Linked DNA regions of Homo sapiens. The protein of the gene in region 1 interacts with the protein of each later gene in a pairwise test. Each region holds a gene or a part of one and is shown on either strand. Other genes may lie near its edges.

Evidence for each region.
Region 2: the proteins of CCDC167 (region 1) and TACR1 interact in binary tests that used the Homo sapiens proteins (3 or more experiments, as listed by UniProt).
Region 3: the proteins of CCDC167 (region 1) and MS4A3 interact in binary tests that used the Homo sapiens proteins (3 or more experiments, as listed by UniProt).

What each region holds. Positions count from the first base shown.
Region 1 is NC_000006.12:37,498,334-37,502,087, reverse strand, and holds the start of CCDC167 (coiled-coil domain-containing protein 167), read left to right. Parts: upstream 1-2,194; 5' UTR 2,195-2,224; coding exon 2,225-2,266; intron 2,267-3,754.
Region 2 is NC_000002.12:75,192,802-75,196,555, forward strand, and holds part of TACR1 (substance-P receptor), read right to left. Parts: intron 1-3,754. UniProt on the Homo sapiens protein: This is a receptor for the tachykinin neuropeptide substance P. It is probably associated with G proteins that activate a phosphatidylinositol-calcium second messenger system.
Region 3 is NC_000011.10:60,059,626-60,063,379, reverse strand, and holds part of MS4A3 (membrane-spanning 4-domains subfamily A member 3), read right to left. Parts: intron 2,235-3,754; 5' UTR 2,220-2,234; coding exon 2,064-2,219; intron 1,858-2,063; exon of another isoform or gene 1,826-1,857; intron 913-1,825; coding exon 775-912; intron 1-774. UniProt on the Homo sapiens protein: Hematopoietic modulator for the G1-S cell cycle transition. Modulates the level of phosphorylation of cyclin-dependent kinase 2 (CDK2) through its direct binding to cyclin-dependent kinase inhibitor 3 (CDKN3/KAP).

The DNA.
Region 1 (3,754 bases):
AGCTCCATCACTCAATGTCTCTATCAAGAAGAGAACACAGATCTGAAAACATTTTTCCCCCTAACACTGAGTTGGGGTTATTATTCACATACAAAAACACAGGCACCAACAGAGATAACTGGTCAGGAAATAAGGAGCTTTGATTCTGGTCTCATACTCTTTGACCTAGTAATTCTACTTCTGTGAATTTATCTTAAAGAAAGAATCCAGAGGACAGAGCTGTGTGCACGAAAAGGTTTGCTTTCGCAATATTTGGAGTTACTGTCAATAAAATGATGTCCAATGCAAGAATGCGAGAGACTCCCTTGGTGGCACATGAGGCCACCGCAAGTGATAATTTCAAAGACACAGAAAAACATACTTGGCAGTGTTTTTCAAATTGCAGTTCAACCTCCATTAAGGGGTCATGAAATAAACCTAAGAGGTGTCCTGCCACCAACTTGTTTTTGTTTATTTTTTTGAGATGGAGTTTCGCTCTTTCACCCATGCTGGAGTGCAGTGGCACGATCTCGGCTCACTGCAACCTCCGCCTTCCAGTTTCAAGTGTTTCTCCTGCTTCAGCCTCCCGAGTAGTTGGGTTTACAGGCGCCCACCACCACGCCCAGCTAATTTTTGTATTTTTAGTAGAGACGGGCTTTCACCACGTTGGCCAGGCTGGTCTCAAATTACTGACCTCGTGATCTGCCCAGCCTCCCAAAGTGCTGGGATTGAGAGGTAAAGCCAGCTGGACTTCCTGGGTTGAGTGGGGACTTGGAGAACTTTTCTGTCTAGCTAGACAATTGTAAACGCACCAATCAGCGTTCTGTGTCTAGCTAAAGGATTGTAAATGCGCCAATCAGCACTCTGTAAAAACCCACCAATCAGCGCTCTGTGTCTAGCTAAAGGATTATAATGCACCAATAAGCACTCTGTGTCTACCTAGGGATTGTAAATGCACCAGTCAGTGCTCTGTAAAAACGCACCAATCAGCGCTCTGTGTCTAGCTAAAGGATTGTAAATGCACCAATCTGCACTCTGTAAAAATGCACCAATCAGCACTCTGTGTCTAGCTAAAGGACTGTAAATGCACCAATCAGCACTCTGTAAAATGGACCAGTCAGTGCTCTGTAACAGGGGACAAATAAGGGAATAAAAGCTGGCCATCCCCCAGTCAACAGTGGCAACCCACTCAGGTCCCCTTCCATGATGTGGGAGCTTTGTTCTTTTGCTCTTCACAATAAATCCTGCTGCTGCTCACTCTCTGGGTCCGTGCTACCTTTAAGAGCTGTAACACTCACCGTGAAGTCAGTGAGACCAAGAACCCACCTGAAGGAACCAACTCCAGACACAGGATTACAGGCCTGAGCCACCGTGCCCGACTTTGTTTTTTTTTAATTAAATAGGCAAGAATACAAAATAACAGAGTGCATTACAGGAGGTAAAGGTACTTACTGTGAAACTTTGGTTTTGGTTTCATGGGTAACTGGGCCATGGTATAAAATACATTTTTTTATCGTAGGGTCACAGTCAAAACATTTCAAAGGCCGTGGGTCTATGGTGTACAGTATAGTACGATTACAACAATGTAAAATACTGTGTGTGAGGCCAAGCCTGGGAGGAATAAACAGAAGCAAAGAGGAACTGATAAAGTTGGTAGAATAAAGGATGCTGCTTCTCAGTTATATGTTTTCTGTGATGTTTGTAGGTTGTTCTTACAATAAAACAAACCAAAAAAAAAAAAAAAAAGAAGTCAAGACACAAAGGAGAAATAACAATAGAGGGCCATTATCAGATTCCATTGGCCGAGAAGCTCAAGGCTCCAGCACCGGCCTTGAAGGATGGACAGACTTTGAATGGGGGGCGTGGCCTAAACAGGGACGGGGTTGTTGCTGAAACACAAAACACACTGAAAGAGAACATGGGGTTAAAAAAGGCTCTCAGTGATGCAAAGCGGCTTAAAACTGGGGAAGAAAGGGGCAGGTCTACTCCCGGGCTGTACATTCTGCCTCCCTGTACCGACTTTTCCACCCTCCACCCATCTAGGCTGAGGTCTCAAGCTAGAGGTTGCCCCTCATAAACATGTCCGCACCAAGCCGGCCGCGCCCCTCAACAAGATGGCGACGGCAGCAGCCCCACCTCCCGCTGACTCGGTGGCCAATGAGGGAGAAGCACGAAGACTTGAGCATGCGCACATAGCGACTTGGTGGGCGCGTCCAGTGATGACTGGGGGATCCCGGCAAGTAACATGACTAAAAAGAAGCGGGAGAATCTGGGCGTCGCTCTAGAGGTGAGGGGAAAAGTGGGGGTTGGGCCACCTCGTTAGTTGCCTTCTCCTGGCCGCGGGATAAGGGATAGGCTGGGCTATAGATAGGAGGAGGAGCCAAGCGTAGGATGAGAGGGCGACGCGGTTTGGGGAGAGGGACGGGAGGGGTGAGAAGGCCCACGGGGTTCCCGGAGGACAGGGAGCCCGAGGAGGTGCCGGATGGGCGAACCAGACTCTCTGGAGAGGGCATCTCCAGAGAGGAAGAGACATGGAAGTGAAGGGGAGCCCCAAAGACGGCCTGGCATAGAAGTGAGGGAACTCAAAGCGGGGGACACAGAACAAAAGGGATGGGTACAGAGGTGAGGGAGACCCCAGAGAAATAGGGACCTGTAGAATCTAAGGAGAACTCCCAAAGGGCTAGGACTCAAAGATGAGGGAGCCCATTCTGGTGTATATTATTAATGGTTTAAATATCCTCTAAAAGGGGAAATTTTTCCTCCGGAGTATGGAAGCTTGTACCTTCAAAATTACTTTGGGAATATGTAAAGAGAATTCTGGAATTGGTGATGTCACTGAATGGCTTAAAAATAATTTGCTGCATATAGAAGGGAAAGAAAACATACATACTGAGCAACCGCTATGTGCTACTTTCATTGCATTGTTAATCCTCACTGCAAGCCTGTGAGGTTTGTACAGATGAGGAAATTGAGGTTCCAGGTGGAACCCAGGCTGAGATGGTGGAAGTGGTGGAGCCTGGGAATCAAGCACAGGTGGTCTTCCTGGAAATTCATCTTGCTTCCCCTGTTTTCCTTCCCTTAGGGCATCCTCCCGGAGGTTGCAGGAGAGGTACAGGGTCATAGTCTTCTTCAGGCTTACTAGTGAGTTCAGTGATTCTCAAACTTTAGCATGCATAGAGTCACAGGGCTTGTTAAAAATGGAGAGTTGAACTCTTCCCACACCCCGAGTAATTCAGTAGGACTTTGATGTGCATTCTTAACAAGGAATCTGCTTTTTTTTTTTTAAGACAGAGTCTCGCTCTGTTGTCCAGGCTGAAGTGCAGTGGCGTGATCTCGGCTCACTGTAAACTCTGCCTTCTGGGTTCAAGCGATTCTCGTGCCTCAGCCTCCCGAGTAGCTGGGATTACAGGCACGTGCCACCATGCCTGGCTAATTTTTGTATTTTTGTAGAGACGGGGTTTCACCGTGTTGGCCAGGCTGGTCTTGAACTCTTGACCTCAAGTGATCTGCCCGCCCGCCTTAGCCTCCCAAAGTGCTGGGATTACAGGCATGAGCCACCACAGCCGGCCAGAATCTGCATTTTTTTTTTTTTTACAAGCCACACACACCCCATGGTGATGTGGGTAGTTTTAGTGGCATCCCTTGAGAAATATTGGCCCACTTGGTAGGAAAAAGGTTGATGGAAATGTGAAGAGGATGGTTTATGAGTGGTGACTGAGATGGTACTTTGTGGCGGGAAGAACATAGACTTTGTAACCTGCATTAGGGTACAATA
Region 2 (3,754 bases), on another chromosome or scaffold:
GAAGATTAAATGAGACAATGGACTGGAGGGAACATAAATAAAAGATATCATTATCAATTTTATTAACATAAAACTTCCTTTCTAGTTTCCAAATGATGGATATTAATAAATTATTATGAGTATTCCCAATCCAGTGTTCTTGAAGTTAATTAAAACACAAAACTCCACATTCATTTCCCTGTGCCTTGCTGCCTCTCTTCCTCTTTGTCGTTTCCTCCTCTTCTTTCTCTTCATTCTCTTTCATTCTGTCTCCTCCTTCTCTTTTCTCTCCCCTCCATCCTCTCTCCCCTACTGCCCTCCCTCTCCTTCTTCTTCTCCTTTTACCAGGAAGTCTTTCCCATATTCCCAAGGGAGTTCTTTGCTCTAACTCTGCTCCCTCTGCATGGCATTGATTGCATTGGGTTATATGCTGTTCGTGACCTTGTTAATCTCCAAAGACTGAGACACAATGGCAAAGGCAATGTCTTACTGCCTCAGAATATGGCACACAGTAAGTGCTCAATAGTGGTTTGATGGACGGATGGATGAGGAAAGAGATCATTCCCTTCACTGCCATCTAATTTTATTTCCTCTTACCATTCTCTGCTGATATTGTCTCTTTGATCCCTGGCTTGTCATTCTCTAGCCTCACTTCTCAAGTTTCTTGTCGGGCATTCCAACTAATCGTTATATTTTCATGTCAAATTCAACATAGAGTATTCTCATATTTTTCTGGGCAACTCCTCAATTCATTCCCTGATTCACCTGTGAATTCACTTCGGTTGAATCAGTCTGTCATTGACCTGAGGCACTTTGCAACATTTGACTTCCATGCTTCTGTCATACAGCTTCTTCTACCTGAAAGGTCATTTCTTTTTTTTTTAATCAACTTCTCTAAAAATCTTATCTAATCTTCAAGGCCTAACTCAGTTGCCCTATCTTGAGGTCTTCCTTGATCATTCATCACTGCTGGGCAGGATGTCCCTCCTCTTGTCTCCTATGGAATATATCTGTACAACCCATATGAAACATTTTACTTAATACCTTATATTTTAGTTACCTCTAAATCAGTCTTATTTGCCTTCATATATAGCCCTTTGAGGGAATAAACAAGGCTGTGAGTTAGGAAACCTCACCTTACCTTGATGGCATCAACACTTGATAGACTGAATATCTTTATCTAAGTTTGATGGTGTTTCTGTCTCATGATCCTCACTCTAATTCAGCAACAATAATAGTAACAGTGTCTTGTGCTTGTGCTATGTGCTTTTATTTTGAGAATTATTCTTTATTTGCCTCCAATTCAAACTATGATTTCTTCCAGTTTTTTAAAAAAGTAACACCCTTGACCATTCAGGACACTGCAGGCTCCCAGGAGTAGGGAGAGAGTGTGGCAAGTGTAACGGAGCAGCTCCAGAGAGGAGGTGGGCATTGGACCTCTTGAAGAAAGGCCCTGAAATCTAAATGACCCATCTGAGAATTAACAAACTCCATTTTGATCCACATCAATGCTGACATTGGAAAAGACAGGGCCAGTTGTGGCCAATGAGCTTCTAGTGAATGGCCATTCACAGCATCACAGCAGTGCATGGTAATGGGTTTCCAGGGCCATCCGAATTAGTGCAAAGGATCCTGGAATTTAATTCCCCCTCCAGGTGGGGTGAGGGAAGACTGCTCTGAGATAAACAATGAGATTGCAGTTCAACCAACAAGGTAAAGTTCAAGGATAGAGTGCAGGTCTAATAGAGACCTGGAAAGCAGGATATTTAAATTGGTAGCTGAGTATGGCTGGGACAGAGTGTGTAGACACGAGTTCAGTGGACAAAGTTTTTGTGATTTATTCATGTTTTTGTTCTAGGTTCCTCTTTTACATTATCAGCTCTCTCAGAGAGCTCAATTCCTCTTTTGCCTTCAACCATTACTCTCTCTGGGCAACTATATTTTTTGGTCTCAGAGAGACCATTTTATTTGGAGTCTGAGTGAGCAACTGCTACCTTTCATTTTGCTGAAATTATGCTTGCCCCTACCAGGTAGAGAAACAGTGATACCAGGCCAGTGCTTGTCTGGACCTCGCTGTTGCTCCTGTTGCTATGTGCATGGTTTCAAATCAGGTTATCTGTTGCCCATTCCCCAGCTCCCTGCAGGGCTTGGAGATTGCCTCCCTTCCTCTACTCCCTTCTTAGGTTCTGCTCCACAGTACTTGCCAGAGCATCATAATAGAACCAGTAATTGTCACCAACTCCTGAAAATGGGGGTTAGGGGAACGGGGCTGTTGAGGGGGGAGTCATCACCTCTCTGTGTCCCCCATCTTCAAATTTCATGAAACATCATACATACCTTTTAGTTTTATAGTTGTAAAGAATTTTTAAATTCTAAGTCAGAGAAATTATAGAGTTTCAATAGCTAAAATCCCTGGTATTTGTTGGAGTTTAGATAGAGGTAAACCTGATCTTATTTAGCTACATTTGTCTCTGAAACATTTTTAAATTCTAGGTAACTGCTGCCTTCAAAAAATAAAACTCTTTCTAATGGAGATATTTCTTCCCTCCCCTCCTCTCCTATCCCCTTCCCACCTCCCACTTTTCTTCCCTCTTCCCTCCTTCTCCTACCTTCCCTTCCTTTCCCCCCATCCCTTTTTTTCCTTCCCTGACCCCACCCCACCTTTCCTGTAGAAAGACTACAGGAAACATTTAAATTAGTACTGCAATCTGCAACTGAAGTTTTTCTCCGCATATATCTTGATTCTAATAGGAAATTTGACAAAGTTTACCAAGATAGTTTGACTCAACAATTCCTTTAAAAATCCTTTAAAATGAGAAGATATAGCTTTTTAAAAATTCATTTTATTTGATGTAGTAATTCTACTTATTGGGATCTATCTTAAGAAAATAATCAAGAAGGCAAAACAAAATTATCATATATAAATATTCCTTAGATTATTAATTATAATAGCAAAAATCTAGAAATCACCTAAATACACAACAGTAGAGAAATGACTACGTAAATAATAATAGCATATTCACATAATAGAATAGTATGAAGCCATTAAGATTATGTTTCTGAAAACTTTTGAATAACACAGGAAGGTGTTATTAAAGTCTTTCATTAATACCAATGGAAAAATATAGGCTACAAAATTATATAGAATCTAACCTCAATTATGTAGTATAATAGTCATAAAAGAGAAATTCAAAGGTTAGCAGGTGTTGCTTCTTGTCGGTTAGGTAAGGGGGATTGGATTTTTGTGCTCTTCATATTTCCCAAGTCTTCTGCAGTGAACAGGTTTAATTTTACAATCAGGAAAGCCACATTGCTGTTATTTTTAAAGACTTGATTCAAAGGTTGTCTGTTAAAAATTCAAGGAATATACAAACAGCTGATTTAATATTTCCTCTAAGTCTGCATTTCCATGCTGGAGAAAAGGGAGATAACTTACAGGGAGAGGACTTAAAGCCCCCTTTCTTTCCAATACATTCTTGGGAGAGAATGGATGACCACACATGCAGGAAATATATTCATTGGAAGGCCTGAGGGGGTGAGTTTATAGTGTGCTCACCAGGCTGAGCAAGAAAAAATAGAAGGAGCACTTGGCAGACATGGAGACAGAGACCTGAAGTCTCATCCCTAATTCTACCTTGAACTCTAATCTTAGGAATGCCATTGGTAACCTCCCTGGGCTGTATCTGCATGTTGGAAACATGGTGACATTCCCTGTCGCTGTCATTTCCTAAAGCTCTGGCATCCGAGACCTTTTGGTCTCACTGAGCAGGTATCA
Region 3 (3,754 bases), on another chromosome or scaffold:
CTGAATGAATACATTTTAAAATCACCCCTATTTCTTCTGATTGAATGTTGACCCAGATAATGGAAATGATTCTTCTGACTTTCAGACAGTAATCAGCAGACAAATTTCTTAACTCTCAAGCCAGGACTCTCTGCTGTACCACAAGGCAATTCATCAATACCCATTTTTCATTCAATTTTTTAAGTATCTATAAATGTAACATATAGTTATATATAAGATAATTTTTAGGACTTCATTTGTACTTGGCAAATGTGGTTTCTCTTAATCAGAAAGAGATTTTTGGCCTGGCATCAGGGCTCATGCCTGGCAATTCCAGCATTTTGGGAGGCCAAGCTGGGAGGACCACTTGTGGTCAGGAGTTCGAGACCATCCTGGAAAACATGGTGAATCCCTGTCTCTACTAAAAATACAAAAACAAAAATTAGGTGGGCATGGTGGTGCATGCCTGTAATCCCAGCCACTCAGGAGACTGAGGCAAGAGAATCACTTGAACTGGGGAGGCAGAGGGTTTCAGTGGGCAGAGATCATGCCACTGCACTCCAGCCTGGATGGCAGATCGAGACTTTGTCTCAAAAAATAAATTAATTAAGTAATTAATTAAATTAAAAAATAAAAAAGAGTTTATCGTCTCTAATTGTTTATATCAAGAATTGCAAATCAAAACCACAGCATGCAACCTTCCAATAACCTACAAACAATATTTTTGTCATCAAACACATCTCCAGCAGTGGTATCTAAGAAATAACATATAGCCAGGGGAGTACGAATACTCACAAACACAGCACCCCAAATCGGGTAGCCTGTGTAGAAGGTGAAGAAAAAGAAGTGCTTTTGGAAGTGGTATGGGTATTGCAAGGAACCCAGAAAGACACCCAAAGCCAGAATCATTGCTGCATTCAGGATCTGGATGGCCTGAAAGAAGAAAGGGGAAAAAGGCGTAACAGTCATATACTAAAGTGGACACTGAAAACAGGCCATTTTAATTTTCCTCAGAAAGGAGATGTCGGTGCTTGAAATGGTTAAAGTGTCAAGCCTAAATTAACAGAACGAGAGCTTATCTGAAAGAGTTTTTTATTCCACGCTATCCACACCAATTCCAGTGGCAGCATTTTGTCTTCACCTCTCCCCCACATTTCTGTTCATTCTCACGAACTCCTCTCAGAAAGTGGCAGGACAGTAAAACAGACATGATTGGTAAGGTAGATGGAGTCAAAGTCTCTTCCCAGCATGCTTTTGCATCATAATATGATGAAGGCAGACAGAGGATAAGCCATATCCTACTCAGCCTTTCTCTCAACCCAATTTTTAACCCTTCTCTCAACCCAATTTTTAAATTTAAAATATAGAATATAAGCTTCATAGAGCTCAGCCTCCTCAAATGGCTGGTCAAAAGGCACAAAACAAAAAATGAAGGGTCTTGGAATCTGTTCTCCAAGGTTTGATGTTTTCTACCATGAGAAAATGCCTTTGCATTTCTGCTCCCCAGATCTATAAGAAGTCCCTGTCTTTTCTCCAATCATTATTAAGTCAGTGATAAATAACTCAGAATTTCCTCCTTCTCAGCATAAGCAAGGTTTTCTACATGATACAGTTGGCTCTTGAACAACATTGGGGTTTGGAATGCCCACCCTTTCATGGTGGTAAATCCACGTAAAACTTATGACTTCCCAAAAACTTAACTACTAATAGCCTACTGTTGACCAGAAGTCTTACTATTAATATAAACAGTCGATTATCACATATTTTGTATGTGACATATTATATACAATAAGCTAGAGAAACTAAAAACGTTAAGGAAATCATAAGAAAGAGAAAATGTATTTACTATTCATTAAGTGGAAGTAGATTATCATAAAGGTCTTCATCCTCATCCTCTTCACGTTGAATAGACTGAGGAAGAAGAGGGAGAGCAGGGGTTGTTCTTGCTGTCTCGGGATGGCAAACAGAGGTGGAAGAAATCCACATGTAAGGGAATCCTCACAGTTCAAACGCACGTTATTCACAGGTCAACTGTATTTATTTTCTTCCCTCTTAAATCAGTGTTTAAACTAAGGCTGACTTACCCCAAGAACTTGTAATTTTGCTTTCTGATAATCTGGTGATCCATCTATGGGCTGGTAGACAGAAGTATTCAGCTCTTCTGGTCCCGCCTCACTGCCTGGGGTACCATGGGCAGAGGCTGACCCCAGCTCTGCATTATCAACTTCGTGGGAGGCCATTGGGGTTGTTTATGGCTGTGATAGAAAAGAAATCCAAAGCCTTCATGCTTTCCCTTTTTCCACTAGCTACTAAAATTTTGAGTGTTACAGAAGGGTTCAATTCTGTCCATACATTACAATGACTCTCCACAAATGGGACACCAGGGCAGAGTAACAGAGTTTGTACAATATTCAATTCTGTCTTGCCTTGGAGTAGTAGACATCATCGGGTCATTGTAGTAGGCCTTGGTGCTTCACTTAACTTTGGAATGGTAAAGAGCAATTTCTTTCTCATTTTGCATGCACTGATATATAGTCCCTGCCTTTCTTCAAGTCAGTCAAGGGCAACCAGACATATGGTTTCTCTGAGCAGTGGTCTCTTTATAAGAATAATGGCTTTAGTCACATTCCAGTAATAATAGTAGGTGTCATTTATTTAGTACTTATTACTATATGCCAAGCACTGTCTGGATGCTGTGAATGTATTAATATACTTAATCCTGTTATAATATTATTATTATTCCCGTTTCACAGATGAAAAAAATTGAGGTATAGAGAGACCGAGAAACTTACCCAAACTCATATGGCTTATAAATCATTTCAGATTTTACTAAAAACATTCTACTCTAAGGTCCAATATTTTTCAAATCACCACATTATATAGTACTATATAGAAGACGTCTTTCTGAGTACCAACATAGCATGGTAGAGTTTAAGCACTATGGAAGATCCAAATTCAAATCCAGATTTCATCATTTACTAGTTGCATGACCTAGTAATGGGAACCTCAGTTTTCAGAGTTTAAGCACTATGGAAGATTCCAATTCAAATCCAGATTTCATCACTTACTAGTTGCATGACCTTGTAGTGGGAACCTCAGTTTTCACTTCTGTAAAAATGGGAATAATTTTAATTTTATATTAACATTGCGAGAGTTGACTTTGATAATGTACGGAATTCTCAACCTGTGAACAGGTGGTATCAGCTTTTAACTTATACTCTGCCTTCTAACAAAAAGGACTTCAAGTTTGTATATATATAAGGGTCACAAAACAACCACCTCAATCATTACAGCTGAAAAATATGTATCACTAAAGTACACACAGAATGCTTACATTGGACTTCTGAATGTTGGGCAAGATAACTTCCTAATTCATAGTACCCTCCTACACAAAATAGTTGTAAAATGCTTATATGCTTTTATAACTGATGAGGGAGATGGCATGAGATGAACCATAAACAAACACATAAAATGATGCTGTATTCTGCCATAACTATCGATTGGGTTAAGAATAAGATCTTAATATAAATCATTCTACCATAAAACACATGCACGTGAATGTTCATTGCAGCACTATTCACAATAGCAAAGACATAGAATCAACCTAAATGTCCATCATTTGTAGACTGGATGAAGAAAATGTGGTACATACACACTGTGGAATACTATGCAGCCATAAAAAGGAATGAGATCATGTCTTTTGCAGGAACATGGATGAAGTAGAAGCCATTATCCTTAGAAAGCTAATACAGGAACAGAAAACCAAATACCACAT